Linked DNA regions of Homo sapiens: region 2 is linked to region 1. Evidence: fine-mapped QTL for protein levels in blood plasma. Region 1 holds a variant in brackets. A gene starts in the other region. All regions are shown on their reverse strands.

Region 1 (15,387 bases):
AAAAATAAAAAATAAATTAGCTAGGCACAGTGGCACACAGCTGTAGTCCCAGCTACCCAGGAGGCTGAGGTGGGAGAATCCCCTGAGCTCAGGAGTTTGAAACTGCAGTGAGCTATGATCGTGCCACTGCACTCCAGCCTGGCGACAGAGCAAGACTCTGTCTCAAAAAAAAAAAAAAAAAACTTTTTAGATTGACTTTTAAAATGGGCAAAGGATTCGAACAGACATTTTTCCAAAAAAGACATACAAATGGCCAATAAGCACATGAGAAGATTCTCAACATCACTAATCATTAGGGAAATACAAATCAAAACCACAATGAGACACCACTTCACATCTATTTGAAAGGCTATGATCAAAAATCAGAAAACAACAAGTATTGGGGAGGATGCAGAGGAACTAGAATCCTTGTGCACTGCTGGTGGGAATGTATAGCACAGCCACTACAGAAAACAGTACACTAGCTCCTAAAAACACTAAAGACAGAATTATCATATTGTTCAGCAATTCCACTTCTTGGTATATACCCAAAGAAATAGAAAACAGGGAGCTTAACAAGTACTAGCATGCCAGTGTTCACTGCAGCATTATTTACAATAGCTAAAAGGTAGAAACAACCCAAGTGTCCATCAGCAGAAGAAGGAATAAACAAAATGTGGTATACCCATACACTGAAACATCATTCAGACATAAGAAGGAACGAAGTTCTAACATAGACTACACCATGGATAAACCCTGAAGACCTCATGCTAAGTGAAATATGCCAGACACAAAAGGACAAACATTGTATGATTACTTTTTTTTTTTTTTTTTTGAGACAGAGTCTCGCTCTGTCACCCAGGCTGGAGTGCAGTGATGCGATCTCGGCTCACTGCAAGCTCCGCCTCCTGGTTTCATTCCATTCTCCTGCCTCAGCCTCCCAAGTAGCTGGGACTACAGGTGCCCGCCACCACACCTGGCTAATTTTTTTTGTATTTTTAGTAGAGACGAGGTTTCACCGTGTTAGCCAGGATGGTCTCGATCTCCTGACCTCGTGATCCACCTGCCTCAGCCTCCCAAAGTGCTGGGATTACAGGCATGAGCCACCGCGCCCGGCCATATGATTACATTTATATGAGTTATCTAGAATAGTCAAAATCACGGAGATAGGAAGTAGAGGCCAGGCACAGTGGCTCATACATGTAATCCCAGCACTTTGGGAAGCCGAGGTGGGTGGATCACGAAGTCAGGAGTTTGAGACCAGCTTGGCGAACATAGTGAAACCCCATCTCTACTAAGAATACAAAAATTAGCCAGGCATGGTGGTGCCTGCCTGTAGTCCCAGCTACTCGGGAGGCTGAGGCAGGAGAATCACTTGAACCCAGGAGGCAGAGGTTGCAGTGAGCCGAGATCACACCACTGCACTCCAGCCTGGGCAACACAGCGAGATTCTGTCTCAAAATAATGAATGAATGAATGAATGAATGAATGAACGAACGAACGAATGAATGAATGTAGAACAGTAGTTGCCAGGGGTTGGGGGTGAGGGGGAATAAAGAGTTTTCATTTAACTGGTGTAGAATTTCAGTATGGGATGACGAAAAAATTCCAGAGATAGACAGTGGATGACAGTTACACAACAATGTGAACATACTTAATGCCATGGAACTATATACTTCAAAATGGGCAGGGCACAATGGCTCATGCCTGTAACTCCAGCTTTCTGGGAGGCCAAGGTAGAAGGGTCTCTTGAGGCCAAGGGTTTGAGACCAGCCTAGGCAACATGGCAAGACCCCATCCATACAAAAAATTTAAAAAATCAGCCAGGCATGGTGGCACATGCCTATAGTACTAGCTACTGGTGAGGCTGAGGCAGAGGATCACTTGAGCCCAAGAGTTTGAGACTACAGTGAACTATAACTGCATCACTGCACTCCAGCCTGGGAGAGAGAGCAAGACCTTGTCTCCAAAAAAAAAAAAAAAGGTAAAAATAGCAAATTTTATGTTACGTACGTTTTGCCACAATAAAAATAAATTATAAACAACCATAGGGGAAAAGCTTCATGATCCTGACTTTGGCAACAGTTTCGTAGCATGACACCACAAGTACAAACAAAAGAAAAAAAACAGATAAATTGGACTTCATCAAAATTTAAAATTTTTGTACATCTAGAGACACCACCAAGTGAGTGAAAAGACAACCACAGAATGGGAGAAATATTTCCAAGTCACCTATCTGATAAAGCAGGGCTCCCCAACCCTGCTTTATCCCCGTTAGGAACCAGGCCACACAGCAGGAGGTGAGCAGTGGGTAAAGAAGCAAAGCTTCAACGATATGTATTTACAGCCACTCCCCACTGCTCACATTACCACCTGAGCTCCGCCTCCTGTCAGATCAGCAGCAGCATTAGACGAACCCTGTTGTGAACTGTGCATGCAAGGGATCTAGGTTGCATGCTCCTTATGAGAATCTAATGCCTGGCTGATATGGTTTGGCTGTGTCCCTACCCAAATCGTATCTTGAATTATATCTTCCATAATCCCCCATGTGTCGTGGGAGGGACCTGGTGGGAGGTAATTGAATCATGGGACTGGTTACCCCCATGCTGCCATTCTCATGAAGATGTGATGGTGAGTTCTCACAAGATCTCATGGTTTCACAAGGGGCTTTTCCCCCTTTTGCTTGGCACTTCTCCTTGCTGTTGCCATGTGAAGAAGGACATGTTTGCTTCCCCTTCTGCCATGATTGTAAGTTTCCTGAGGCCTCCCCAGGCATGTTGAACTATAAGTCAATTAAACCTCTTTCCTTTATAAATCATCCAGTCTCAGGTATGTCTTTATTAGCACCGTGAGTACAGACTAATACACTGATGATCCGAGGTGAAGCTGAGGCAATGATGCTGGTACTGGGAAGCAGCTGCAAATACAGATTAACATTAGCAGAGAGGTTTGACAATCAATTGCTTGCAGACTCATCTGAAACCCTATCAGTGAGTGGCAAGTGACAATTAAGCTGCATCAGATGGCACGCTTTACAGTGGCAAGTGAGTTAATGTACTTAACACAGCTGTATCTGGTGGCAGGCTTTAAGTCACAATCCGACACTTAATTTACTCCTCGAATAGCCCACGCATTATTTTATTTACAGTCCATGCCTCTTTCCCACATGGTGCACTTGTCTCAGTCACAGTTTTGGTAAGCCCACAAGCTAGCTCTAGGCAAAATGAGTAAAAAACAAACATCACTGGAGAGCTTCTTTGAAAAGGGGGGAAGACTCAATGATGAGACAGCAGAAGACTCTAAGACATTCTAAGAATGCCAACAATAAAGAAAGCTGCATTTAAAAGAAAATACCGGCCAGGCATGGTGGCTCATACCTGTAATCCCAGCACTTTAAGAGGCCAAGGTGGGTGGGATCACCTGAGGTCAGGAGTTTGAGACCAGCCTAGCCAACATGGTGAAACTCTGTCTCTACTAAAAATACAAAAATTAGTCAGGCTTGGTGGCATGCGCCTATAATCCCAGCTACTCAGGAGGCTGAGCCAGGAGAATCGCTTGAACCCAGGAGGCAGAGGTTGCAGCGAGCCGAGATTGCACCACTGCACGCCAGCCTGGGCAACAGAGCAAGACTCCATCTCACAAAATAATTAATTAATTAATGAAAATACCAAGAGTCCTACTTAAATTACGGGTTCATTGCAACAAATGATTCACATTCTCCAAGTGCTTTGTATAAAATGTGGCAACCGGTTATCCAACAAAGCCATGAAACCTTCAAAACTGTCTCACCACATGGAGACCAAGCACCCTGCATTAAAAGACAAGCCTTTGGAGTTTTTCAAAAGAAAAAAAATGAAACACTAAGAACAGAAGCAATTATTGAAGGCCACCACTTCATCAAATGTGTCTGCACTTGAGACACATTCTTAGTGGCTAACCACATCGCTAAAACTAAGAAGCCCTTTACTATTGGTGAAGAGTTGATCCTGCCTGCTGCTGAGGACATTTGTCATGAACTTTTAGGAGAGGCTGCAGTTCAAAATGTGGCACATGTTCCTCTTTCGGCTAGTACTATAATTAGACAAATAAATAAAATAGCAGAAGATATTGAGGTACAATTGTAAGAGAGGATTGAGTCACTGTAGTATGCAATCCAGGTTGACAAGTCCAGCAATGTTGACAAGGCAACAGTGCTTGCTTTTGTGCGATATATTTTCAGGAGGATGCACATGAGGATATGTTGTGTGCACCTTTGTTGCCAACTAGCACCACAGCTGCAGAACTATTCAAGTCTTTGAATGATTACATATCAGGAAAACTAAACTGGTCATTTTGTGTCAGTATATGCATAGATGGAATGGCTGCCATGACTGGACAGCTTTCTAATTTCACTACTCAGGTCAAAGAGGTCACTTCAGAATGTAAGTCTATGCACGGTGTCAAAAAATGACAAAAAATGTCGCCTGAACTTAACAACATTTTACAGGATGTGATTAAAATTATCAACCACATTAAAGTACATGCCCTTAGCTCATTCTATTTGCACAGCTCTGTGAGGAAATGGACGCAGAGCATACATGTCTTCTCTTACACACAGAAGTGAGATGACTTTCTAAAGGTAGATCACTGGCCAGAGTTTTTGAGTTATGAAAGCAGCTCCAGTGATTTCTTTTAGAAAAACAGTCAGTCACTACTGGCAGCACATTTCAGTGACGCAGAATGGGTCACAAACTGCTTACTTGTGTGACATATTCAACCTGCTCAATCTGTCACTTCAAGGGAGAACAACAACTGTGTTCAAATCACCAGATAAAGTGGCTGCATTCGAAGCCAAACTGGAATAATGAGGGCGATGAGTCAACACTGGGATTTAGCAGAGATTTTTTTTTCTTTTTTTTTTTCTGTGATGGACTCTCACCCTGTTGCCCAGGCTGGAGTGCAGTGGCATGATCTCAGCCCACTGCAACCTCCACCTCCCGGGTTCAAGTGATTCTCTTGCCTCAGCCTCAGCCTCCCGAGTAGCTGGGATTACAGGCATCTGCCACCATGCCCAGCTAATTTCTGTATTTTTAGTAGCGATGGGGTTTCACCATGTTGGCCAGGCTGGTCTCAAACTCCTAACCTCAAGTGATCCTCCCACCTTGGCCTCCCAAAGTGCTGGGATTACAGGAGTGAGCCACTGTGCCCGGCATTTTTTTTTTTTTTTTTTTGAGATGGAGTCTTGCTCTGTTGCCCAGGCTAGAGTGTAGTGGTGTGATTTTGGCTCACTGCAACCTCCACCTCCCAGGTTCAAACGATTCTCCTGCCTCAGCCTCCCCAGTAGCTGGGATTATAGGTGCGTGCCACCACGCCCAGCTAATTTTTGTATTTTTAGTAGAGATGGGGTTTCACCATGATGGCCAGGCTAGTCTCAAACTCCTGACCTCAGGTGATCCACCTGCCTCAGCCTCCGAAAGTGCTGAGATTATAGGTGTGAGCCACCATGCTTGGCGAGCAGAGATTTTACAAGAGACTGAGCCAGGGCCTTCTTTCTCCCAGCTGGTGCATGATCACGTATCTCAGCTTTCAAAAGAGTCTGAGCATTACTTCCAAACCACAAAAGACCCCCAAACTGGGAAGGAATAGATCCACGACCAATCTGTGAATAAACCAGGTGAATTGACTTTGTGCATGCTAGAAGAGGATCAACTGCTTGAGATCACAAATGACAACAGCCTTAATGGTATGTTTGGGACAACTTCAAATCTCCATACATTCTGGATTAGAGTCAAGGCGGAATATCCTGAGATTGCCACAAAAGCACTGAAAAGCCTGCTTCCATTTCCAACATCCTATTTTTGTGCAGCAGAGTTTTCTGCAGTGATGGCAACCAAAGCGAGATTAAGGCATTGACTGGACATAAGCAACACACTTCTGGTGTCACTGCCTTCCGTCACCCCCAGATGGGACCATCTAGTTGCAGGAAAACAAGTTCAGGGCTCCCATTGATTCTACATCATGGTGAGTTGTATAATTATTTCATTATATATTACAATGTAATAAAAATAGAAATAAAGTACACAATAAATGTAATGCACTTGAATCATCCTGAAACCATCCCCTCATCCTGTCCATGGAAAAACTACCTTCCACAAAACCAGTCCCTGGTGTCGAAAAGCTTAGAGACTGCTGTATAAAGGATTAATATCCAAAAAATATAAAGAACTCCTACAAAACAACAAAAAACCAAACAACTCAATTAGAAAATGGGCAAGGCTTTGGAGACACCACTGCCCCCCAAAGCTCCCTGCCACCAGCCACCGTCAACCCCACCATGTTCTAGGCCATGGACAGCCCTTGAGCCACGTCTCCTTTGAGCTGTTTGCAGACAAAGTTCCAAAGACAGCAGAAAACTTCCATGCTCTAACCACTGGAGAAAAAGGATTTGATAATAAGGGTTCCAGCTTTCATATAATTATTCCAGGGTTTTTGTGTCAGAGTGGTGACTTAACATGCCATAATGGTGTGGCAAGTCCAGCTACAAGGAGATCTGATGAGAACTTCATCCTGAAGCATACACTCACTGGAACTAGCAATTTTCCTATAGATGTCAGTGAGGAAGAAACAAATATCCCTGTATTAACATCATAACCGTCATAATCACTTTTTTGTATTAATAATGTCAAATCACTAGAAACTCAGTTAAACAACTGATACTCAAGAAGTGGAACTGGTAGTAGGGGACCTTTTACTTTTGTAAAGAGAGGATTTATTGCTCTCAAGCATGTATCAATTTTGAAATTTTTCAAAATGCAAGTCTGTGGAGGAAATAATGCCCTATTATAACAAAAATGCAGAAAACAAGTACCCTCACTGTCCTGGAGGACAATCTGGCAACAGCTAATTTCAAACAACCAACTGCTCAAAAGTAGGAAAGTAAAGGATAGTATATCTGTATTACAGAACGGCAGTCTTAAAAGAGTGAAGAATCCAGATATTAGAACATGTTCAAAGTATAATAGATTTAAAATAAAAGTAGATTATAAGACAATATAAGCAGTATGGTTCCAAATTTATTTTAAATGCCTACTTAAATGTATATACAATAAAAAAAAAACTAAAAAGATATGACAATATGTTGAAAGGGGTTGTCTGGGTAATGAAAATAAGACATCACCTTTATGTTCTTTTTTGTATTTTTTTTGTATTTACTGACATTTCTGTAATGATATATACGTTATGTAATCAGAAGGAAATGTTACATAGGAAAATAAAAAGCTCAAATGTATTCAAGATACTGAATTCACAATATAGAAAAGACTAGATAAGTCATATTTTAGAAAAAATTCTAACAGAAATAGACAAAATCTCTTCTTGGTGCTCTTAAAGGTTTAACCTTGAGTTCCCTGGAAAAGTCACTCATCCAAAACACAGCATTCCCCAAAGATGTCAAACAAAAGAAGTATTGTCGGGATAAGTTCAAACTGCATCCCAGTTACCTGCTGTAAGATTTGTGGATCACTGTTGTGATGACTGTGAAACTGTAGGTGAGAGAGAGGGATTCATACTGGAATCCTAAGGCTCCCACTCAAAATCTGTCATCTGAACTTAGCCACAGGCACTAAGCCTCTCTAACAGGCTCAAGAAAGAGAAAGGCCAAGGGAAAAAAAGTACACTCATGATGTCACAAATTTCTAACAATCAAATATTATTAGGTTTACAGCCTGCCTTTTAAAATACCATCAGGATTAATAAAACAAAATAAAATTCTTCACTAGGTTGGAATCTTAATTAAGCATTCACCAGTCACTCACCATGAACTAGGTCCTGATGATACAAACATGAAGACAAAGTTCCTTATCCTCAAGAAACTCAGTCCCTGAGGCAGAGATGAAATTAAGCATGATCTAGAAGGATAAATGACATACTAGAGGTTGGTACCAACTGCAGTAGAAGCAGCAATGCTTATTTATATCAGGCAGAGTAGGGAAAGGCATAAAAAAGAGATGACATTTGAGCTTTTTCAGTTAACATTCCCCAAGCAGAGAAAGGGAATCATGGGATTCCAATGATATAACAACACCCTGAGTAAAGCAATAAAGGTAAGAACATTATAGTCCTGTCTGGAAAAGGGTGAGTTGTCCAGCATATCTAGAGTATAGAAAATGTGGAGAGAGACCCGGCATGGTGGCTCACGCCTGTAATCCCAACACTTTGGGAGGTCAAGGCAGGCAGATCACTTGAGGTCAGGAGTTCAAGACCAGCCAAGAGGAGAGGGGAGAGGGAGTGGGTGGGGGGGGGGGAGGAGAGCGGGGAGGGGAGGGGAGAAAAAATGTGGAGAGAATGTCAGAAACAAAACTCTGAGAAAAGTTTAGTGCCACCCTTCCTCCTGTACAGGAAGATGAAAATGAAGTTAACATCTTTTCAATGCTGATATTTCTTTCTCACTCCCCATGCTTTAGTAAGTCCATACAGACTTTTTAGCAGCATCTTTCCCCCTTGTTAAAACACCATAGCCATGAACTAAGGCTAAGGAGCCCATCCTAACCCCAAACATTATCAAGTTCACAAAGGTGGTACGGCTGGCACTATCATAAAATGTTCATACAGATAATCTGCATTCAAATCACAACACTGCAGACACTACTTGTTTATACACTAGACATAATTCCCCTCTAGGACAATAAAATTTTCTTCCTCTCCTGTCCAACATTTTTATTAGCCACTTGGAAAAACATAGAAGACAGGCTTATCAATTGCGTAAAGGTCCAAAGAAAATATAGTAATATCTTGGATCACAAACTTAAGCTTCAAAAAGATTTGACAGGTTGTACTCATGAGCTAAATACAGTGTTAATGTTAACGGAAATATAAAATACTTTTTAAATGAAACTAAAATTTTACATTTCTGTTTAATATCAATCACACAAGTTCAGGATGGAGGGGATATAGCTTGACTTCAGTTCATATAAAATAAAACCTAGAGTTGTTATAAATTCAGTATGAGCAATTAGTGTGAAATGGCACCTCAGAAGTCTCCAAAAAGCAGTCTTTATACCACATTAATAAAAATGTCCAATTCAATGCTACAAATACGTGTGTAAAACCTTCTGCATGCCTGGTTCTGAGGTGCGTCTGCCAAGAATGCAAAGATAGACCAGGCGCGGTGGCTCACGCCTGTAATCCCAACACTTTGGGAGGATCACAGAGTCTTACTCTGTCACCCAGGCTGGAGCGCAATGGCGCGATCTCAGCTCACTACAACCTCCGCCTCCCAGGTTCAAGCAATTCTCCTGCCTCAGCCTTCCGAGCAGCTGGAATTACAGGCGTGCGCCACCATGCCCGGCTAATTTTTATATTTTTAGTAGAGGCAGGGTTTCACTATGTTGACCAGGCTGGTCTCAAACTCCTGACCTCAAGTGATCCACCCACCTAGGCCTCCCAAAGTGTTGGGAATACCGACATAAGCCACTGTGCCTGGCCCAAATAAGAATTTTAAATGTATTTTTTATTGTAGGTCATAGTCAAAAGTTGGAAAGACATTAGTCTAATGAAGAGGATAAAGTAAATATACCACTACAAAATACAAAGTATAACAGGATTTAACAGAATAAAATATATCTGGTTGGAGAAAGAGAGGGGTAGGGCCAAGAATCTAGGAAAGGATTTACAGAGATAACAATATATGAGAGAAGTCTTGGCAGGCTGGAAATAATTTAAGAAATGAAGACATGGGGGAAAGGCACTCTGTGTAGAAGGAACAATATGAACAAAGACATGATGCAGCAAATATGTGTTTAATGGTCCTGGGACATGGCGGCACTAGTTATGAGTTAAGTACAAACAGAAGAACCTGGAGAAAGTTCAGTTTGGCTAAAGTGTAAAGTATTAACAAGTCAGTGGATGAGGCTGAACATGCAAATTTGAACCATAACATGAAAGTGCTGGATACATGATAAACCATGAATGCTAGCTGTTCCAACTAGTCTTAGCTCTGGGGCCTTAAACCATATTATCTCTAAGATTTCTTAGAGTTCTAAAGTTTATGACTTACTGAAGAGCTATGATGCAAGTTATTTATATGAAGGCACAGAACAAGGACTTATAAGAAACTACAGGGAGTCATTAGTCTACTCAATAAGGAAGAATGTTCTCATTACAGCTAACAATAAAATGGGCTGTCCCAAAAAGTGGTGAGGGCATTGGCAATAGATATGTTTGAATATAGGCCAAATACATATCTGTTGAAGGTATGGTACTAAATCAGTACTATCAAGTTCTGTGTTTATCACACTCTAATTCTTCTATCATGTTGGTTCTCACTTATTAGCAAGAGCTCATGAATGAGTTCCGAAGGGAGAGGGAGAATCATATTAAAGTAGGAGGATGGGATTTTATTCCATTGTAGATAAGCAGGAAAATGGGAAGCTTCTGAATGACATTTCCCAACATAGTAATTATCTTTACTAGAGTATCCCTAAGGTGTGATATAGCAAATCAACTGCAAGTACTTAGCTAAAATAATTTGGTGATGTATAAAAAAAATTTAAGGTTTTAAGAGCCTTTATGTGAAAAAAATGCTTGCTTCTCCCTGCAAAAGCTGTCAAAAGGGGGTATGCAAAACAATTAAATGCATAATCATAAACAGGTTTGGCTTGTTCATTACAATAAAAGCATAACATTGGAATTAAAATCCTAATATAGCATACCCAATAATGCTTACATGTTGGGAATAATTTCAGATCATTCTTAAAGAATAAAGACACAAAAATTTTAAAAAATTCAAAATACAAACTATTAAAAATTAAAATTTAGCACCAATGTAAAAATATGCTATGAAGGTTAAAGTACTTTCAACCTCAATGACCATTCTTTTGAGACTGCCCTGCTTCAGAATGCATCTAATACTACACAGAAATAGGTGCCATGTTTACAATTTAGCTTAATGTTTCTAAATCATATTCTAATACTGCATGATAAAACGAACTAGAAATCTGAAGTCTACTGAATAGACTTAAGATGATTAAAAACTTAAACATAAGACCCAAAACTATAAACCTACTAAAAGAAAACATAGGGAAAATGCTTCAGGACATTGGTCTAGGCAAAGATTTTATGACTAAGACCTCAAAAGCACAGGCCACAAAAACAAAAATAGACAAATGGGGCTACATTAAACTAAAAGCTTCTGCACAGCAAAGGAAAAAGAGTAAAGAGACAATCTACAGAATGGGAGAAAATATTTGCAAACTATTTATCTGATAAGGGACTAATATACAGAATATACAAGGAACTCAGCAGCAAAACCAAATAATCCCATTAAAAAGTAGGCAACAGGCTGGGCACAGTGGCTCATACCTGTAAACCCGCCACTCCCCAGGAGGGAGGGTCTCTTGAGGCCAGGAGCTCAAGACCAGCCTGAGTAAAATAGCAAGACCCAGTCTCTATAAAAAAAAAAAATTAAAAATTCGCTGGGCATGGTGGCATGGACCTGTTGTCCTAGCTACTGGAGAGGATGGCTTGAGCCCAGGAGTTCAAGGTTACCATGAGCTACGATCATGCCATAGCACACAAGCCTGGGTGACATAGCAAGACCTCGTCTTAAAAAAAAAAAAAAAAAAAAAAAAGCAGGGCACGGTGGCTCATGCCTGTAATCCCAGCACTTTGAGAGGTCAAGACGGGCAGATCACTTGAGGTCAGGAGCTCGAGACCGGCCTGGCCAATATGGTGAAACCCCGTCTCTACTAAAAATAGAAAAGAATTAGCCAGGTGTGGCGGCGCACACCTGTAATCCCAGCTACTCAGAAGGCTGAGACAGAAGAATCGCTTGAACCCAGGAAGCGAAGGTTGCAGTGAGCCGAGATCACCCCATTGCACTCCAACCTGGGCATCACGGCAAGACTCTGTCTAAAAAAAAAAAAAAAGAAAGAAAAAGAAAAAAATAGTCCAATACAGAAATAAAATTCCTTAAATATAACTATCCAGTTTAAATTGAAAACTGCAGAGTATGTCTTATCTTTCAAGCCACAGTCATATACTACTGACAATTCCTTTCAGAGGACACGGTGTAATAATACAATCTGTGGCTTAGAATCTCAAAGTCCTAGGTTCAAATCTCAACTCAGCACTTACTATCTAAAGTATCTTAGATCAGTTACTTAATTT[C/A]TCTCAGCTAAAGCTTCTTTCTCATCTGTTTAAAAAAGAGGGGAGAGGTGGTGATATAGTGTAAAGCTCAAGTAGAATCATGAATAAGGAAGTTCCCCATAAACACTAAACAAGACATCAAGCACATCCTCACTTTTCAGAACAAAATAAAGTCATAGGTCTATGAAATCTTTCCTACCCCTAGTGGATGATGTCTTTACCTCTAAAGGGGTATTGGGGCCCTTCCAGAGGTTGCAAAGGTTGGGCTTCCCTCACTGAATAAATAACTAAAGAGCACACTGTCTTCAGACTATTTTGGTGAGTTCTAGTCCATTTACCAACAGATTTACTCAAATTTTGTGAACACTAATTCTTCCAGATCTGGTTTCAAGGATCTATTTCCTCCCCACCTTCAGATTCTTTTCCTGCACCACAGGATCTTTACAAGTTTCTTTTAAGGACTCAGGATTTGTTTGTTTGTTTGTTTGTTTGTTTTTAAGTGCTTTTCTTCCCTATCTGGAGAAACCTAACCAAAAGGAAGTTAGGTAAAAATAATGCATAAAATACGCATTACTTTTTAAATAGGAAAAAATAAATATAACATTACAAAACTAAAATGTAAGGTCTTCAGATTGGTAATGAGAAAAATTTTTCATGTTCTACTAAGAGGGATTAATAAAAAATAAGCAATAAATGCCCTAAATTACTCAAAAATTTGCCTTAGCTGGGCACAGTGGCTCACAGGTATAATCCCAGTGACTTGGGAGGCTGAGGTGGGAGGATAGCTTGAAGCCAGCAGTTTGAGACAAGCCTGGGCAACATAGCAAGACCATGTCACTAAAAAAAATTTTTTTTAATTAAAATTTAAAAATTAGCCAGGCAAGGCTGGGCGCAGTGGTTCATGCCTGTAATCCCAGCACTTCGGGAGGCCGAGGCGAGCGGATCACAAGGTCAGGAGATTGAGGCCCTCCTGGCTAACATGGTGAAACCTCATCTCTACTAAAAATACAAAAACAAAATTAGCCGGGCATGGTGGCGGGCACCTGTAGTCCCAGCTACTCGGGAGGCTGAGGCAGGAGAATGGCATGAACCTGGGAGGCAGAGCTTGCAGTGAGCCGAGATCACGCCACTGCACTCCAGCCTGGACGACAGAGCAAGACTCCGTCTCAAAAAAAGAAAAAAAAAAATTAGGCAGGCAAGGTAGTAAACACCTGTAGTCCCAGCTACTTGGGAGACTGCTGCAGGGGGATCGCTTGAGCCCAGGAGTTCAAGGCTGCAGTAAGCTATGATCATGCCGCTGCACTCCAGCCTGGATGACAAGAGCAGGACCCCACCTCTCAAAAAAAAAAAATTGCCTAATGACAGCAGCAGAATAAACAAGATGACCTTCTGAAGCAGCTTCCACTTCTAAGACGTCAAACTAATACCTATGTACTCAAACCTTTACCACTTTTCTATTCAAGGAGTGTAATTACAAACATTTTTGTTTTAAAAACTGTTGGTGCTTGCTGCTCCTGCTGTTGCTCCTGTTAGAGGGTGAGAAAAGCATTTTCTTGGTTTTTGTATTCTATATTTGGTACTCTGGGTACAGTCAGTATAGGGAAAGACAGGTGTTTCACAAAAATAGCTGGATTTTTCTCACCTAATACACTTTAGAGCAGGAAGCTTCTTGGAAAGGTAGAATAAAGAATGGAAGGATGCAGGACTTTCCAAGCATTCATGGCAACAGAAAGGAAAGCAGAGATTCTCTAAGAGGGAAAGGGACATAAGAAGTCAAAACACGGGCGAACGGGTACAGTAAAGAACAGTACCTTACAGTACCACAAAAAGAAAGCAAGACAGTCAAGTATTTCACAAAATACTGCCCACTGCCAAGAAGAAAATTAAGAAAAATATACAATCGTTGAAGGACAAAAAAAAAAAAATTAACAACCTTTGGGATCCAGTTTCTTTATCTGTGTAATAATGATAACATTAAGACTACTCTGGGAATCGACATGGGGTTACCTAAGTGAGAGTCCCAGGCACACTGACAGGCCTATCACTGACCCTCAGAAAGGATAATGTCCTCCCCACTGCCTAAAATCACTCACAGAATATTACAATGGAAAGGGGGGCTCAGTCATCACCTCATCCTAAATGAATAAACCAAACAATTCAGTCATGTTATAACCTGTACAGAATTCCTATATTATAAAAAATTTAATAAGTATTACTACAGGATCTCAAAGCCTTATCAATGTCAAATACAAATGAACAGCTGCAGTGGAAAAAACCCTTTGTACTGCTGCAACAGGGGACTCCTTCCCTCACTAACATCAGGGCAAAAGGAGGCCCTCGAGGCCCTCCTCCACAAATTTCTCCAAATTGGTAGGAAGTAAGTGTAAGGGGTTTCCCTCCTTGCTATGTGATTATAGGTTGACAAACAAAGACACAAATCTGTGCTCCAAGTTAGTCATAAAAATCAAAGCTGAAACTCAAACATTTTCTCACAGGAAAATGATAATGGTTATATTTTCAAGCTAGCCCTCATAGCAATCAAATGATGCAGCAAAAATGCCGTTTTAATTGACTATTTTTCTCATAAGTATAATGTATAAGCTACTTTATAAAGTGGATTTTATGAAAAGTTCTAGAAGTGTAGCCCTAACATCCTTATGAAAAAAAATGTGTCCTGAGTTTTAAACAATTTACACAAAAACTTTTAGATCATAACTAAGGAAGGGACAGTGGAAGACTGTGAGATAAATAGAGAGTTGCTTGGTTTGGTAGAAAAGGCATCTAAGTTATGCTAAACCACAGCTGCTATGAAAATGTCTTCAGTGTAACTGTCTCTCTCATTTAGCAAGCATTAAGCTCTGCCCTGAGCCCAATGCTGTGGCCCTCCAAAGGGAATAACAATTTTTCTAAAGCTAAAAACACAATCCTAGGAATGCAAGAATTTCGTTGCATCTTGCTGGGAAAATCACACACCAAATCCTAGTGCTTTGAGATTCACATGTACCTATCTTGATTACCTTGCACTGGCTCTGTCTCAGAACACACTTAGTGTTATTAGTCTAAATACTAAGGGAAAAGAAGAAACTATTAAGCATTCAGCACGTTCTCATTTCACTTTCACAATCCTGTAAGATAGGTAAACATTATCCCCAATTTATACATTAATAAAATGACGTTAAATGATGTTAAATTACTTGCCCACACCACCAGTAAAGAGAAGCTAGGACTCTGAATTCCACTTTGTCCACTATTCAAGGGCTCCTCCCCCCACGCCCCCACCCCCGC
Region 2 (15,387 bases), not on the chromosome of region 1:
ACTCCCATGTAGGGTCAGTGCAGAAAGCCTGGTGAATAGTAGGTGCTCAATAAATGCTAGCCTGGTTTTTTGTTTTTTTGTTTTTTTTTTTGAGACGGAGCTTGCTCTGTTGCCAGGCTAGAGTGCAGTGGCACCATCTTGGCTCACTGCAACCTCCGACCCTCTGGTTCAAATGATTCTCCTGCCTCAGCCTCCCAAGTAGCTGGGATTACAGGCACACACCACCACACCCAGCTAATTTTTGTGTTTTTAGTGGAGACGGGGTTTTACTATGTTGGCCAGGATGGTCTCGAACTCCTGACCTTGTGATCCGCCCGCCTCGGCCTCCCAAAGTGTTGGGATTACAGGCATGAGCCACCGGGCCCGGCCAATGCTACCCTGTTAATCAGCCTTGGAAGCAAGTCTGGGCCACTTACCTCAGTGTGCCCAGATGTCCCCAAGCATCAGTCCTGCCCCATCTTGGATCTCAGACCAACCCCCACAAGACCTCGCCTCTTTTTCTTTGTCAAAGGAAAATCCAAGAGATTCTTACAGAAGAAGGGCTTTTTACACAGTAGGCCTGAGAACAGACATCCAATGGATAAAGAAGTACAGTTTTCCATTAGTTTATTACAATGATAATAATGATCATGTCTATTTACTGGGCTCCTACTATATGCTGAGTCCTTGTAACAACAGAATCTCCCATCCTCCCCACATTTCTCTAAAGGTGAAAATATTGGCTCCATTTTACAGATGAGGAAACTGAGGCTATCCAAGTGACCTGCAGCCAAGCCTATCTCCTATCTAGTCTCTACCATTTGTTTCTCTCTGTCTCTTTCTCTTGCAGACACATGGTATTTCTTCTTCCTCTCTCTCTAACCCCATTTGCTCTCCCTATCACAACACCATAATCCAGGGCCGGGCAGAGCAAAGCAGCCACAGCAGTCATGTCCTTAGCAATCCATAATACAGCATGTTTGCTGACAAAATGAATGTGGAGTACAGTTAGGCAACAGGAAATTAACAGCTGACCCCAGAGGTCAGGAAAGAGGGTGTACAAAAACTGAAATGTGCTTCTGCTTCCTGACAATGAGTCTGATGCCAGAAAGAGCAGAGGTTCCCCACCCACATCAGGCAGCCCTGGACTGCTTGACCCTGACTGATGACCCAGTGCCAAAGAGGAGGGTGGTGACCCATGGAGCCCAGGCCACCCCACCCCACCCACAGGAGCCATCAGGGACAGATGATGGTGTCTGAGAACACTCAGGCCATCAGTCCCTCCCCTGCCTCCCACCAATCCATTTTCCACCTGGCAGCCAGCCCAATTTTTTACAGATGCAAATAAAAATGTGTCACTCCTCACAGGAAGCCTGCTGTGGTGCTAGGAATCTGGGTGGTAGTTCCCAGGTACACATTTGTAAATACTGGTCTACGTCACTCTATGTAACTTAGGCCTCATAATTCTTTTTAAGGAACTTCCACTTGTGGGAAGATGGAGTAGGTATATTTTTTCCTGTACTTCCTGCTAAGTACAACTAAAAACCTGGGACATCACGTACAAGACAAACATGAGAAGACTCTGAAAGGTGGAGAAAAGAAGGCAGGCGGGCCAGGGACATCAGGACTGAGGACAGTGGCGACTCTCCTAGGCTTTCTTTTTGTCTCATTATCCCAGAATGGGTACTGGAGAAGCTGGCAGTCTGGAAATGCCAACAGCCACTACAAAAAAAAACCCTCAACAAAACCTGCTATCTGTAGCCAAAGGACCAGGAAAAGGGCGGCCTGGCAAGACAGAAAATTCCTAGGCAATAAATACCCTACTGCAGCCAAACGCCACAGGAAAGTATGCAGCTCCACCCACCCATGCCACAAAGGCTGAATGGGGAGACTAGACCTCCTCCTGACTAGGCAGTAACGAGGGGTCCCAACATCCCCAGCTGGGTGGTAACAGAGAAGGCCAAGTAGGAGCCAGGACTTGCATCCCAGCCATTACAGGTGCTCTCCCTGACCTTGCAGTGTTAGTGGAGACCACGTGGGGAGCTGAAACTTGCACCCTGTCCAACAGTAACAGGGAATCCCCCTCTTAAGTGTCAACAGAAGCAAACTGAGGAACCTGGACTTCTACCCCCACCTGGCGGTACTGAGGCAGTGCCACCCCTTTCCCGGCCAGAGGGGTGTCAGAGGCCAGCTAAAACAAGTTTAGGCTGGGTGTGGTGGCCAACACCTGTAATCCCAACACTTAGGGAAGTCAAGGTGGGTGAATCACTTGAGGCCAGGAGTTCCGGACCAGCCTGGGCAACATGGTGAAAGCCCATCTCTACTATCAGGTTGATGCAAAAGTAAGTGTTTTTGCCATTAATGGCAAAGTCACAATTACTTTTGCACCAACCTAATAAAAATACAAAATTTAGCCAGGCATGGTAGCATGTCCCTGTAGTCCCAACTACTTGGGAGGCTGAGGCAGGAGAATCGTTTGAACCTGGGAGGTGGAGGTTGCAGTGAGCCAAGATTACGCCACTGCACTCCAGCCTGGGTGACAGAGCAAGACTCAGTCTCAAAAAAACAAACAAACAAACAAACAAAAAACAGGTTTAAATAAGACCCAGCGTTTCATAACATAATACAAAATGTCCACGTTTCAATCAAAAAGTATTAATCATATAAAGAACCAGCAAATCTCAAACTGAATGACAAAGGATAACTGATAGATGCCAACACTGAGATGACTGGGATGTCAGGATTAGCTGACAAAGGTTTAAAATGGCTGTGATAAAATGCTTCAATGAGCAACTGCAAACACACTTGAAACAAATGAAAACATAGAAAGCCTCAGCAAAAAAAAAAAAAGAAAGAAAAGTAAAAGAAAAAAAAAAGAAGGAGCTATAAAGAACCAAATGGAAACTTTAAAACCAAAAAATACAATAATCAAAATAAAAACCTCAGTGGATGGGCTCAAGAGCAGAATGGAGAGGACAGAGGGAACAATCAGTGAATTCCAAGACAAAACAATAGAGCTACCTAATCTGACAAAAGAGAGAAAAAAGACTGGAAAAAATATGAACAGACTCATGGACCTGGGGAACTATCGTACAACAAAGATCTAACATTTGTGTCACTGGAGTCCTTAGAGGAAAGAAGGAGTGTGAGGCAAAAAGAAGTACTCAAATCAATAATGGCTGAAAACTCCCCAAATTTGACAAGAGACATAAGCCAACAACAGATTAAAAAGGTGAGCAAGCCGGGCTCGGTGGCTCACGCCTGTAATCCCAGCACTTTGGGAGGCCGAGGCAGACGGATCATGAGGTCAGGAGATCGAGACCATCCTGGCTAACACGGTGAAACCCCAACATGGTGAAACCCCGTCTCTACTAAAAATACAAAAAATTAGCTGGGCGTGATGGCAGGTGCCTGTAGTCCTGGCTACTCAGGAGGCTGAGGCAGGAGAATGGTGTGAACCCGGGAGGCAGAGCTTGCAGTGAGCCGAGACTGTGCCACTACACTTCCAGCCTGGGTGACAAAGCAAGACTCTGTCTCAAAAAAAAAAAAAAAAAAAGGAGTGACCAAATCCTAATCAGGATAACTCCCAAAAATTCATGGCAAAACACATTATAAATTTCTGAAAACTAAAAACTAAGAAAATAATATATAAAGCACCTAGGCAAAAATGCTTTATTTACAGGGGGAAAGCAATTTAAATGACAACAAACATCTCTTGAAAAACCATGGAGGCCTAAAAGATGTATCACAATATTTCTCAGGAAAAAAAAAAAATCTCCAGCCCCACGTGATTTCCCTGAAGAATTCTACCAAACTTTTACAAAAGAATTAACACAGGGCCAGGCTCAGTGGCTCATGCCGATAATCCCAGCACTTTGGGAGGCCAAGGACGGAGGATTGCTTGAGCCCAGGAGGGTGAGGCTGCAGGAAGCCATGATCACACCACTGCACTCCAGTCTGGGTGACAGAGTAAGATCCTATTTCAAAAAAACAAACAAAAAAAAGAATTAAAACTAGTTATATAAAATATCTTCCAGAAAACGGAAGGAAAGAGAAGGAAATACTTCCCAATTCATTACAAAGCTATTATGACCCTGTATCAAAACCAAAGATGGTACTTAAAAAAAAGTTCAGACTAATATTCCTCATGAATAGGTGCAAAAATTCTTAACAGAATATTACCAAATAGAATTCAGCAATATAAAAATAATTCTACACTATGACCAAGTGTAATTTATTCTAGAAATGAGAGATTGGTTCGATATTTGAAAATCAATCAATATAACCCACCAAGTGAATAGGCTAAAGAAGAAAACCCATAGGATTATATCAATCAATGTGGAAAAAGTATTTGAAAAAATTCAACACCCCATGAATGATAAATTGTCAGAAAAGTAGGAATACAGGGGAAATTTCTCAACTTGATAAAGAGCATCTACAAAAAACCTACAGGTAACATTATTCCTAACAGTGAAAGACTGAATGCTTGCTTTCTTTTTTTTTGAGACAGGGTCTGACTCTGTCACCGTGGCTGGAGTGTAGTGGTGCAATCACAGCTCACTGCAGCCTCAATCTCCTGGGCTCAAGTGATCCTCCCACCTCAGCCTCCCAAAGTGTTGGGATTACAGGCGTGAGCCACCGCACCTGGCCTTGGATGCTTTTTTGCTAAAATCAGGAACGAGGCAATATCTGCTCTCATCATTCTTATTCAACACAGGATTAGAAATTCTAGCCAGTGCAGTAAGACCAGAAAAGGAGATAACAGATATACAAATAGGAAAGGATGAAATAAACTTTCCCCTATTTGCAGATGACCTAATTATCTATGTAGAAAATCCTAAGGAATCTACAAAAAGAAGGGGGAAAAAAAGAACTTGACTTCTATAAATATTAACTCAAAGTGGATCACCAACTTAAATGTAAAATTATAAAACTAGAAAAAAATAGAAGATCTTTGGGACCTAGGACTAGGCAAAAAGTTGCTAGATATAATACCAAAAACACAATCCATTAAAGTTGATTAATTCAACTTAATCAAAATTTAAAATGTTTGCTCTATAAAAGACTGGCCCTGTTAAGAGGATAAAAAGACAAGCCACAGAATGGGTAAAAATATTTGCAAACCACATAGCTGACAATGCACTAGTATCTAGAATACATAAAGGTCTCTCAAAACTCCAGCAGTAAAAAAGCAAATTGTCCAATTAGAACATGGGTTGGGGGAGCGGGTGCAGTGGCTCATGCCTGTAATCCCAGCACGTTGGGAGGCTGAGGCCAGAGGATTGCTTGAGTCCAGGAGTTAGAGACCAGCCTGGGCAACATGGCAAAACCACGTCTCTAAAAAATATACAAAAATTAGACAAGCATGGTGGCACACGCCTGTAGTCCCAGCTACTTGGGAGGCTGAGGTGGGAGGATGGCCTGAACCTAGGAGGTTGAGGCTGCAGTGAGCTGAGATTGCATCACTACACCCAGCCTGGGTGACAGAGCAAGCCCCTGTCTCAAAAATAAAAGAACATGGGCAAAAGACATGAACAGATTTTTCACTGAAAAAGATATACAGATGGCAAACAAGCACATGAAAAGATGTTCAACATCGTTTGCTATTAAATAATTCAAATTAAAATCACAAGACATCATTACATACATATAAGACTAAAAGTAAAAAATAACGACAATACTAAATGCTGGCAAAGATATGGAACAGCAATCATTCATTGCTGGTAGGAATATAAAATGGTACAGATACTTCAGAAGATAGTTTGGCAGTTTTTCACAAAACTAAACATAGTCTTACCATATGATCCAGCAATCATGCTCCTTGGTATTTACCCAAGTGAGTTGAAAATGTATGTCCACACAAAACCTGTACACAGATGTTTATAGCAGCTTTATTCATAATCACCCAAACCTGGAAGCAACCAACATGTCCTTTATTAAGTGAATGGATAAATAAACTGTGGTACATCCAGACAATTGCATATTATTCAGTGTTGAAAAGAAGTAAGCTAACACACCGTGAGAAGACATGCAGGAAACTTAAATGCATATTGCTAAGTGAAAGAAGCCAATCTGAAAAGGCTACAAATTATTATATGATTACAGCTATATGACATTCTGGAAAAGATAAAATTATGGAGACACTAAAAAGTTCAGTAGTTGCCAGGGGGTTAGGGGGAGGAAGAGATGGTTGGCAGAGCACAGAGGATTTTTAGGGAAATATATAATACAGGATCAATTTAAGAGATTCAATATCCAACTAATAAAATTATCACAAACAGAACAGAGAAAAGGGAGGAAAGAAATAGCCAAAGAAGTAATAGAAAAGAATTTTCTCAGAACTGAAGGAAACAAACCTCCACTCGCTGGCCAGCACAATGAAAGACTCAACCCCAGGACTCATCAAACACAGGGCTAGGGACTGCTGTTTCTCCATAAACGGCCTCCAAGTACCCCTCTTATCCCAATTATACACATGCATTTGTTTATTTAAACACAAAAAGACCTCTAATCTGTATGCTTTCTCCCCAGTTATGTAGCATCTACACATCAAAGTAAAATCAGGAACCTAAGTTACATTATCTCAATATACCCTAATCCCAAAGGCCCTTGGGATCAAGTTCAAATGTTTTAGCCTACATTCAACACCCTCCCCATCTCTAATCTGCCTCTTCTCTCTGCCACATCCTGAGCTCCATCAACTGATCTTGTCCCAAACTATAAAAAGGTGGGGAGAGACACTAAATCCCTCCTAAAACCTTCCCCCATGTTACAGAAATAAGACAGAGTGTTCCCCACCACAAAATGTCTGTGTCTGCCCTTGGACACAGAGTTTGCCATTACCATCTCCACACTACGGCCTTCTGGACATGCCCTGTTCCAAACTTTGGCCCCACTCCTGCTACCTTCCTGCTTCATTTTTCATAGTACTTATCATTTCACTTTACTTTTCTTTCTCTTCTGTAGCTCCAGGAGGGCTGGAGATTCTGTCTTGTGCACGGTTGCCTATAAAGGGTTAAAGAGTGCCTGGTGCTTCTAAGATGCTTGTTATGGGATGAATCGTGTACCCCAACATTCACACTGAAGCTGTACCATGCACTACCTTGGAATGCAACTATATTTGGAGATACAGCCTTTAAAGAGGTAGTTAAGGTAAAATGAGGTTACGAGGATGGGCCTGATTCCAATCTGACCTCATATTCCACAGCACCCACTCGGAACACCACATCTGTGTCCTGCCAAATGATGACTGTGCGAGCCCCTGCCCCCTCTCCTCTCCAACTCGGGTAGCCCTAGGCTTCACCCGTCTTCCAAACAGTCGTTCTCACTTTGCTGCAGCAGCGGCCTCTGGGAAAGGGCCCTTGGGTTTGGGCAGCTCAGCCTGTCAACCCAAGTCTGTCCTTCTGGCACACAGCTCCTCTTTCTTGGAGCCCCTTTGCTTGGCCTGGGTTGGGGGGACCCACCATCTCTTCTCCCTAGGTGCTCTCTGCTTTGATGAGTTTCCTTCAAAAACTCTCCTCAGGCTTCTCTAGCTCCGGATACAGGAGGGTGGATAAAGGAGCAGTCTAGCTGCCTGCCAGCAAGACACACAGGGAGGTGTCTGCACCTGCAGAGAGAATAGGGGTCTTGTCCTTAGCTGTTGTCCAAAACAACAGAAAATGCTCCACTCCACAGGCTGCTGTGCTTTTAGAGGAAACCAAAGTAAGACCTTGAGTCAGTCAGGGTCCTCTCAGGAAACAAAGGGTGAACTCAGCTGTTTGGGTTTTTTTTTTTTAATTCAGAGAATTTAATGAAGGGACTATTTACTTGGGTGTGAACATTAAGAAAACCAACATGGGGCATTGAGGCATCCTGGGGCTAGCAAGGATGACAGCCCTCATCATCCCAGCCTAAGGGGCAAGGGGAGGAAACAGGGTTACTGGAGACAGTGAGGGAGGTTATGGCAGGAGATGTCATCAGGAGGTGGGGGGGAGGGGCGGGAGGGACAGCGGGCACAGCTACGGCCAAAACTGCAGTGCTCATCAGGACAGGAGCTGGGAGAAATACTTCAACCTCTCTCTTCTCCCATCTCCTGCTGGTGTCTCCCATTAGTCAAACCCAGCTGGAAGCCAGGGGCCATGGAAACCCAGCGATGTCCTCCCTACAGGGCAGCCCCCACACCAGGCACAGAGGAGGATGTGGGTGGATCAGGGAACGCAGAGAACAACCAGCACAGGCCTAACCCAGGGGCGGAAGCCATACCAACTTGAGCAAATGTCTTACCAAAATGACATCGAGGAAGCACAGGGGGTCATCTGTTTTTACTGAGCCATCTGGGTTTGACAATATTACAGCATACATTACAATGACTATTACAGAGGGTATTTAGTGGAGACTTTTTTGTACACTTGCAGCCACTTCTCCTCCTAGTCTCACACTCGTTTTCTGTATTATAGTCAGGGATGCCTCTCTCCCTGAATCAGTCCAGTTTCCATCAAGTAACACTCAGGTTAGGACAATTTGAGTAGCATTTAATAAAAGGACTATTTGCTGAGGTGTAAGCAGGAGATGGCCCCCTATCTCTGGGCTGGTAACACCAGGGCTGTCAACACCCCTAGACCTGAAGCGGGCAGAGGAGGAAGGAGTCACCCACAGTGAGTCAGGAGGCTGTATGGAGATGGCTACCTGGCAGGACTTGAGACTGTTGGCTGAGAAACAAAACCAGTGTGTGGGGACTCTACAAGGAGGGGAATGAATATTCCTACTTCATTCTCCTTCCCGCTGAATCCTGATAAGCTCCTCATTGGCTGGACCCAATCAGAAACCAGAGGGTGAGGCTGGCCTTCCGGGGCCCAGGGCAGTAGGGAGAAAGGTGGGGAGGCAAATGAAAGGTGTCCAACTGCACTCCCCTTGCCAAGGGATGCATAAAATTACCCAAGCAAGGCCAATGGGATGGACCCTCCTCACTCCTGGAATCTGGCAGACAGACAAAGCCATAGCCATGTGCATTGAGCAGCATCAACCCAACATTGTCCCACCACAGGACCCCCACTGAGGGCCTGCTTTCCAGAGCCCAGGGCAGCCTCAGCTCCCACCCACCCCTAGTCTAGACTCCCAGCAAAGCCTCCCAACAAAGTCAGAGTTAGTGTCTGTTGTTGGCAATGACAGAATCTAGACACAAACATCTTTATGCATGTGAGTTGGGGGTCTCTTTCAAAAACATCAGCAGGCAGAGCAAACTGATCACTGGGAGGGCTGAGAACCAAGCTCAGGGCTTTGCAGCCTAAGCCTAAGCCAGTGTCACTCAGCACTGTGCTTGCCAAGCCACCACCAACCACCCAGAGAAACTAGGACCCAGACAGCACTGGGGTCACCATCGCCCCAGGAATGGATTCTTCCTGCTTCTGCTTCTCAAATCACTTTCTCCCAAAATGAAGCCCAGGACCGTGCATTTTATCAGCTAAACCAAGGCCATGTGCCTTCAATCAAACTGCAAGGAACCCTGGAAATGTGAACACCCAGCATTCTAGTTAGGAGAGGAACACCCCAAATGTGGGAAGAGGTTTCCCATGCTGGGCAGCCAACAAGTAATGTCCCCCAGCTGTATCTGTAGCCTCTTCAACATGTCAGAGTATTTCCTCCAGACAACACCTTAGAAGGATTACCGACTCTGGGCATGTTATTACCAAATTTCTTTACCACAAAAGTTAAACTAATTTCCAGCCACATCCAGTGAACACAGTGCCTGCTTTGCTGCACCCACACACATTATTGCATTTTTTAAGTAAAAACTAATTGGCAAAATGTAATTGATACCTCGTATCTTAATTCTCTCTTTTCTAGGGGGAGAAGGAGTTTCTATGTTTGCTCATTAGTGGTATTCTCCAAAAGTCTTCAATACTTGACTTTGGACCATTTTAGTATTTGTTTTGATAACTGATTTTTTTTCATTATTTTCCCTTTTATAGACTTGTGTTAAAATTAGCTGGCATTTGCTGAAAGAAGAGATCAGGATTAGATTCAGCTGTGTGTAACAGAAAAAAAAACAACAGACACTTAAAATACATAGAAGTTTCTTTCTCTCCTGCATAAAAAAGGCCTAGAGGAGGGCAGTCCAGGGCTGTTTTTGTACCGACTCCACAAAGTCGTGAGAGGCTTTGCCAGTTCCTCCTCTGCCATTCCCTGATGAGGCCTCATCTTCCTCATCCCCACTGTCCAAGGTGGCAGCTAGAGCTCCAGCCATCACATCCAGCAGGACAGAGGGCAGGATGAAGAGGGACAAGCCACCTACCTTTACAACATACCTGTTGGCATCTTGTTGGCCAAAATTCAGATGTGTGACCTCACCTAGCTACAAGGGAGGCTGGACAATGAGCCCAGATAAAAATCAGGATCTTACTACTGAGGACTAAGGGAAGAACGAGTATTGAGAGCCAGCCAACTGTCTCTTCCACAGGCAAGCATACAAGCTGTGTTGAAGACAACCCATTCATATGAGAATCATGATGTTTATGATGACGATGACGATAGCTAATATTTACTAAATAGCTGCCATTTGTAGGCACTGTTTTAGGAACTTGATATGTATTACTTAATCCTTACCACACCCCTATGAAGTAGATACTATGACTATCCTCATTTTACAGAGGAGGAAACCAAGGCACAGAGAGACTAGGTAATTTTTGCAAGGTCACCCAGCTAACAGGCAACAGAATCTAGATTTGAACTGAGGTAGCCTGACACAAGACACAACTATGAATAGAGGCAATCACAGAACCAAGTCAGGGAGGCCAACTGGGGCTTTGCCAAGGGGCTTATCTATTGACTCAGGAGTGGAGAGATGGGACCTAAGCCAGAGCTGCCTCATCACTTTGCCTTTGAATATTTCATCTGTTCATCCATTCAACACAAATGTCCTTTTGTAATACACCTTACATTTGCAATTCACTGTCCAAAACCTGTGCTTGCCACTCCTTGTGGGGCAGATACTGTATCCTCAGCAGCCAGCATAGCCTATAGCACACAGCGCTCAAAAGATATCTGTGAGCCAGGTGTGCTGGCCCTGTAGTCCCAGCTTCTTGGGAGACTAAGGTGGGAAGAACATTTGAGGCCAGTTCAAGACCAGCCTGGGCAACATAGGGAGACCCCCCCCATCTCTACAAAAAAATTAAAAAATTAGCTGGGTGTGGTGGCACACCTGTAGTCCTAGCTCCTTAGGAGGCTGAGGTGGGAGGATCACTTGAGCCCAGGAGCTTGAGGCTGCAGTGAGCTATGATTGCACTTGGGCAACAGGGCAAGGCCCTGACTCTAGTATCTTATCTATATATAGATATAAATACGTAAGTGACTGTGCATGTACATATCAAGCCTACTCTGTGCCAGGCTCTGTGATGGGCACTGAGCATGCAGAAATGAGACACACACCCTGCTCACTGGCCCTTATGGCCAACAAAAGGAGGCAGATGAGCGGGCACCACAAGGAGCAGCACAAAAGAGTGGGGACCTCCATGGTGAAAAGTCTGGAGTGGCTGCACTGTAGTTTATGAGTCACAGCAATAAGGGACAAGGTCCTCAAGGTAGGCCAGAGACAGACTTGAAATTCCTTTCATGTCCAAGGTGAGAAACCTAGCCTCAGCCCTGAGGCAATAGGGAGCCATGAGGCTTTAAGCAGGGTGACATAATCTGAGAGGCCATCTAGAACAACTCTCCTGGTAGTGTGCCAAGGATAGGAGGAGAGAGCCCAGAAGTAGGGAGATTCAGATGAATCTGGGAGGTGTGGGAGCCAAAGTGAAGGGTTTGGAAGAAGAAAGGAGGGGTGGAGTGAGGAGAAACAAAAGAGGTCCCATACCTATTGCATGTGAGCCAGATGGGCCAGGGAACTGTGGGAGGGGAAAAGAGTGGGCCTGAGGTGGCCAGAGTGAGGGGGGCTGGGGAGGGGGACTGGAGAGGGGCCCTGGCCTGAGCTGGGGCAGACAGAGCAGTTGGACGCCAGCAGCCTTGTGCTCATGGCTCAGAAATGTCCCAGGCCTGCCAAGAAACTGCTGCCTCTGTCCCCCCACCAGCCCCAGCCAGGCTCCCACATCAGGAGCTCTGAAACTGTCCCCTCAGCCTTCTGCTCCCCCAGAGCAGGCCTCCCGTCCCCAGAAGCCAGGCATATGACACCCCCACTCTCCCTCAGCCCTCCCCCTCAATGGCTGATGAAACACAGGCCAGGGAAGGAGGGGAAAGAATAAACAGACATCTGCAGGGGGGCCCATCAGGAAGTAGGGGGCAGGCTGCGGCGGGCTGGGGCTGCCTGGGGGCGCCAGGGGGCCCACAGGTCTAGCAGGGTGGGTGGCAGATGGCGGATAGCGGATGGAGTGGGATCCAGGGAACAGTTGGAGCCAGCAGGGAGTTAACGTCTGCAGTACTTTGCCCGACAGGACTAATGAGACACAGGTGGTCCCCTGGCTCCAGCCCCACCTCCCAGCCCCCTGATAGTGTAAACTGATGCTGGTTGTCTGGGGTGGGGAGAGGGGGGTTCTGCAGCTACGGGAAGGGGGGCGGGGCTGGGGCGGCTGGCGGGGGCCCAGCGCATAACTCTGGGCGGTTGCAGTCTGGGGCCGCAGACACCCAGCCACTCTGAGCAGAACTGACAGCATGAAGGTACGGGGCCCAGGGTCGGGGGACTCATAGCATGGGGGAACTGAGCCCACTCCAGAGGCCCCTGGCCACAGAGGGCACTATGAAGGCACAAGGAGTTCTCTTGAAACTCGTAAGCTATGAGGGTACACAGCGTCCCAGAGAGTGGGGTTACTTGGCGGGCGGGGTGGGGGGGCAGGGAAGAGGGGCCAAATAGCAGGAGAGGGATTCAGGCAAGGGCAGTATGTGCATGCATGGTGGGGGCAAATGCAAAGAGAACAGGGGATCTCTGGAGCTGGGAAGGGGCTGTGCTGACCCTGTCTGCCCATCGCCAGGCACTCCTGGCCCTGCCGCTGCTGCTGCTTCTCTCCACGCCCCCGTGTGCCCCCCAGGTCTCCGGGATCCGAGGAGATGGTAAGCAGCCCCACACTCACAGACGCGGCCTGGCCCACAGGTTGTGCAAGAAGAGGCTGGACTGTCAGAACAGACTGTCAGGGCCGAGCCCCAGCTCTGCAGGACTCAGGTTCCTCCTTTACAAAATGGGGCAGATGGATGACATAAGCATTGCTCATCTCCCTTGAAGAAATCTTCCATGACTCCTTGTGTCAAAGTCCCCCAGCCCCAGGGACTGAGGCAAACCTTGGGGTGCTGAGGTGTCAGTGATGCCATAGTCCCACTCTCCTCACTGTCCCCATGTCCCTACCCCCAGCTCTGGAGAGGTTTTGCCTTCAGCAACCCCTGGACTGTGACGACATCTATGCCCAGGGCTACCAGTCAGACGGCGTGTACCTCATCTACCCCTCGGGCCCCAGTGTGCCTGTGCCCGTCTTCTGTGACATGACCACCGAGGGCGGGAAGTGGACGGTGAGTGGGAGGAGGGAACAGAGGCCAGAGCTGGTTCTAATCCCAGCCCTGTGACCCTGGGCTTCACATATGCGAACCTCAGTTTCTTCATCTTTAAAATGGGGATAATGATACCCACAGCACAGCTTCTGAGCAGCTGCCAACGCTTAATTCTAAGTGCCTGAGGTAGGTGTTTGTTTGTTTGTTTTGAGGCGGAGCCTCACTCTGTCATCCAGGCTTGAGTGCAGTGGCTCCATCTCAGCTCACTGCTGGAAACTCCACCTCCCAGGTTCAAAAGATTCTCCTGCCTCAGGCTCCCGAGTAGCTGGGATTACAGGCATGTGCCACCATGCCCAGCTAATTTTTTTATTTTTAGTAGAGATGAGGTTTCACCATGTTGGCCAAGCTGGCCTTGAACTCCTGACCTCAGGTGATCCGCCCGCCTCAGCCTCCCAAAGTGCTGAGATAACAGGCGTGAGCCACCGCGCCCAGCTGAGGTAGGTTAATGCACATAAGCCTCACAATAATCCTGGGAAGTAGTGAGGAACTAAAGCCCAGAGAGGTGAAGTAACTTGCCCAGATCCCACAGCTAGGCACTCGAACTCTAGAACGCCTCCCTCTTAGCCTCTTTCCTGCCTCTATACGAAACTGGGTATGAAGAGCCCAGGTGGGTGCTGGCAACTGCTCCACAGGGGGCCTGGTGCCAATGTGGACGTTGTTTTAGCAACCCCACTCCCACCACCCTCCCCACCCCCAACCCAGTCCTTTAACAAACTGGCCACAGCATCACAGGGTCCATGCTTGAGGTGGGCAGGGCAGGACCAGAACCTTGCCCATTGGACCCTTGATGATCCAGTCTCATCTTCTCTGCTCCAGGTTTTCCAGAAGAGATTCAATGGCTCAGTAAGTTTCTTCCGCGGCTGGAATGACTACAAGCTGGGCTTCGGCCGTGCTGATGGAGAGTACTGGCTGGGTAAGGCAGGGACCAGGTGGGCTGAGGGGCTGCCCCAGGGCCAGGTCCTTGTTGACCAGCTGCCCCTCCTCCCCAGGGCTGCAGAACATGCACCTCCTGACACTGAAGCAGAAGTATGAGCTGCGAGTGGACTTGGAGGACTTTGAGAACAACACGGCCTATGCCAAGTACGCTGACTTCTCCATCTCCCCGAACGCGGTCAGCGCAGAGGAGGATGGCTACACCCTCTTTGTGGCAGGCTTTGAGGATGGCGGGGCAGGTATAACCCGCTGTTAGCTTTGGGAGGGGCTGTGAGGGGAAAGAAGGCAGGGCTGGCCCTGCCCAGTCAGCCCCAACCTCCTTCAGGCCCCTCCTTCAACCCTTCTGGATCTGGAAGGGCCACAGCTGGCTCCAAACAAGCTCAAACCAGCTTGGGCCTCAGCCCTGGGGAGCAGCCATCCTGGCCCTGCTCCAGGCAACTCTGTGGTGGAGCAGCTGTTTCTCTTCATTGCAGAAGCACATCAACCCAACATCTGGCTCAGGGAGGGTGCCCCCATCCCGCCAGGCTGCCACGTGATATCTCTCACAGTCGTCATTGTCACCCTCTCCCGGCCAGCTCGGGGCTCAGTTCCCTGCCTCAGCAGCCCCAACCCTTCTCTCCTCTGCCAGGTGACTCCCTGTCCTACCACAGTGGCCAGAAGTTCTCTACCTTCGACCGGGACCAGGACCTCTTTGTGCAGAACTGCGCAGCTCTCTCCTCAGGAGCCTTCTGGTTCCGCAGCTGCCACTTTGCCAACCTCAATGGCTTCTACCTAGGTGGCTCCCACCTCTCTTATGCCAATGGCATCAACTGGGCCCAGTGGAAGGGCTTCTACTACTCCCTCAAACGCACTGAGATGAAAATCCGCCGGGCCTGAAGGGCTGGCCCCCTCAGGCACCTTTCCTCCCCTGGACACCCATGGTCTCCATGAGTGCTCCCTCTGCTGCCCCTGATGCATGCTTCTGCTGATTCC

Direction of the effects. Alleles are on the strand shown, and positions count from the first base shown. The strength of an association depends on the size of the effect and on how common the allele is.
For the plasma level of the protein whose gene starts at base 12,563 in region 2, C is the high allele of the variant in region 1 and A is the other (weak association).

Evidence for each region. PIP is the posterior inclusion probability: the model's chance that the variant is causal. Protein levels are from antibody-based Olink assays in UK Biobank. Linkage for the fine-mapping came from a reference panel and not from the study's own genotypes, which makes the PIPs less certain.
Region 2: it holds the start of MFAP4, and the variant in region 1 is fine-mapped to the plasma level of the MFAP4 protein (UK Biobank, PIP above 0.99).

The regions. Positions count from the first base shown.
Region 1 is chr3:50,676,711-50,692,097 of GRCh38, reverse strand. The region is part of intron 1 of DOCK3 (dedicator of cytokinesis 3); the gene reads right to left. It also overlaps the pseudogene PPIAP69. Among named protein-coding and RNA genes, the nearest start is that of MIR4787, 9.3 kb to the right of the region's middle. The variant C/A (reference allele first, on the strand shown) is at 12,124.
Region 2 is chr17:19,384,366-19,399,752 of GRCh38, reverse strand. It overlaps MFAP4 (microfibril associated protein 4), which reads left to right and starts at 12,563. Exons shown (of 6, transcript NM_002404.3): 1 at 12,563-12,603; 2 at 12,915-12,993; 3 at 13,289-13,443; 4 at 14,299-14,395; 5 at 14,472-14,654; 6 at 15,044-15,387. The coding sequence starts at 12,598. The coding sequence ends at 15,291. RefSeq lists enhancers at 7,734-8,647, 12,638-13,183, 13,184-13,729, 13,730-14,275.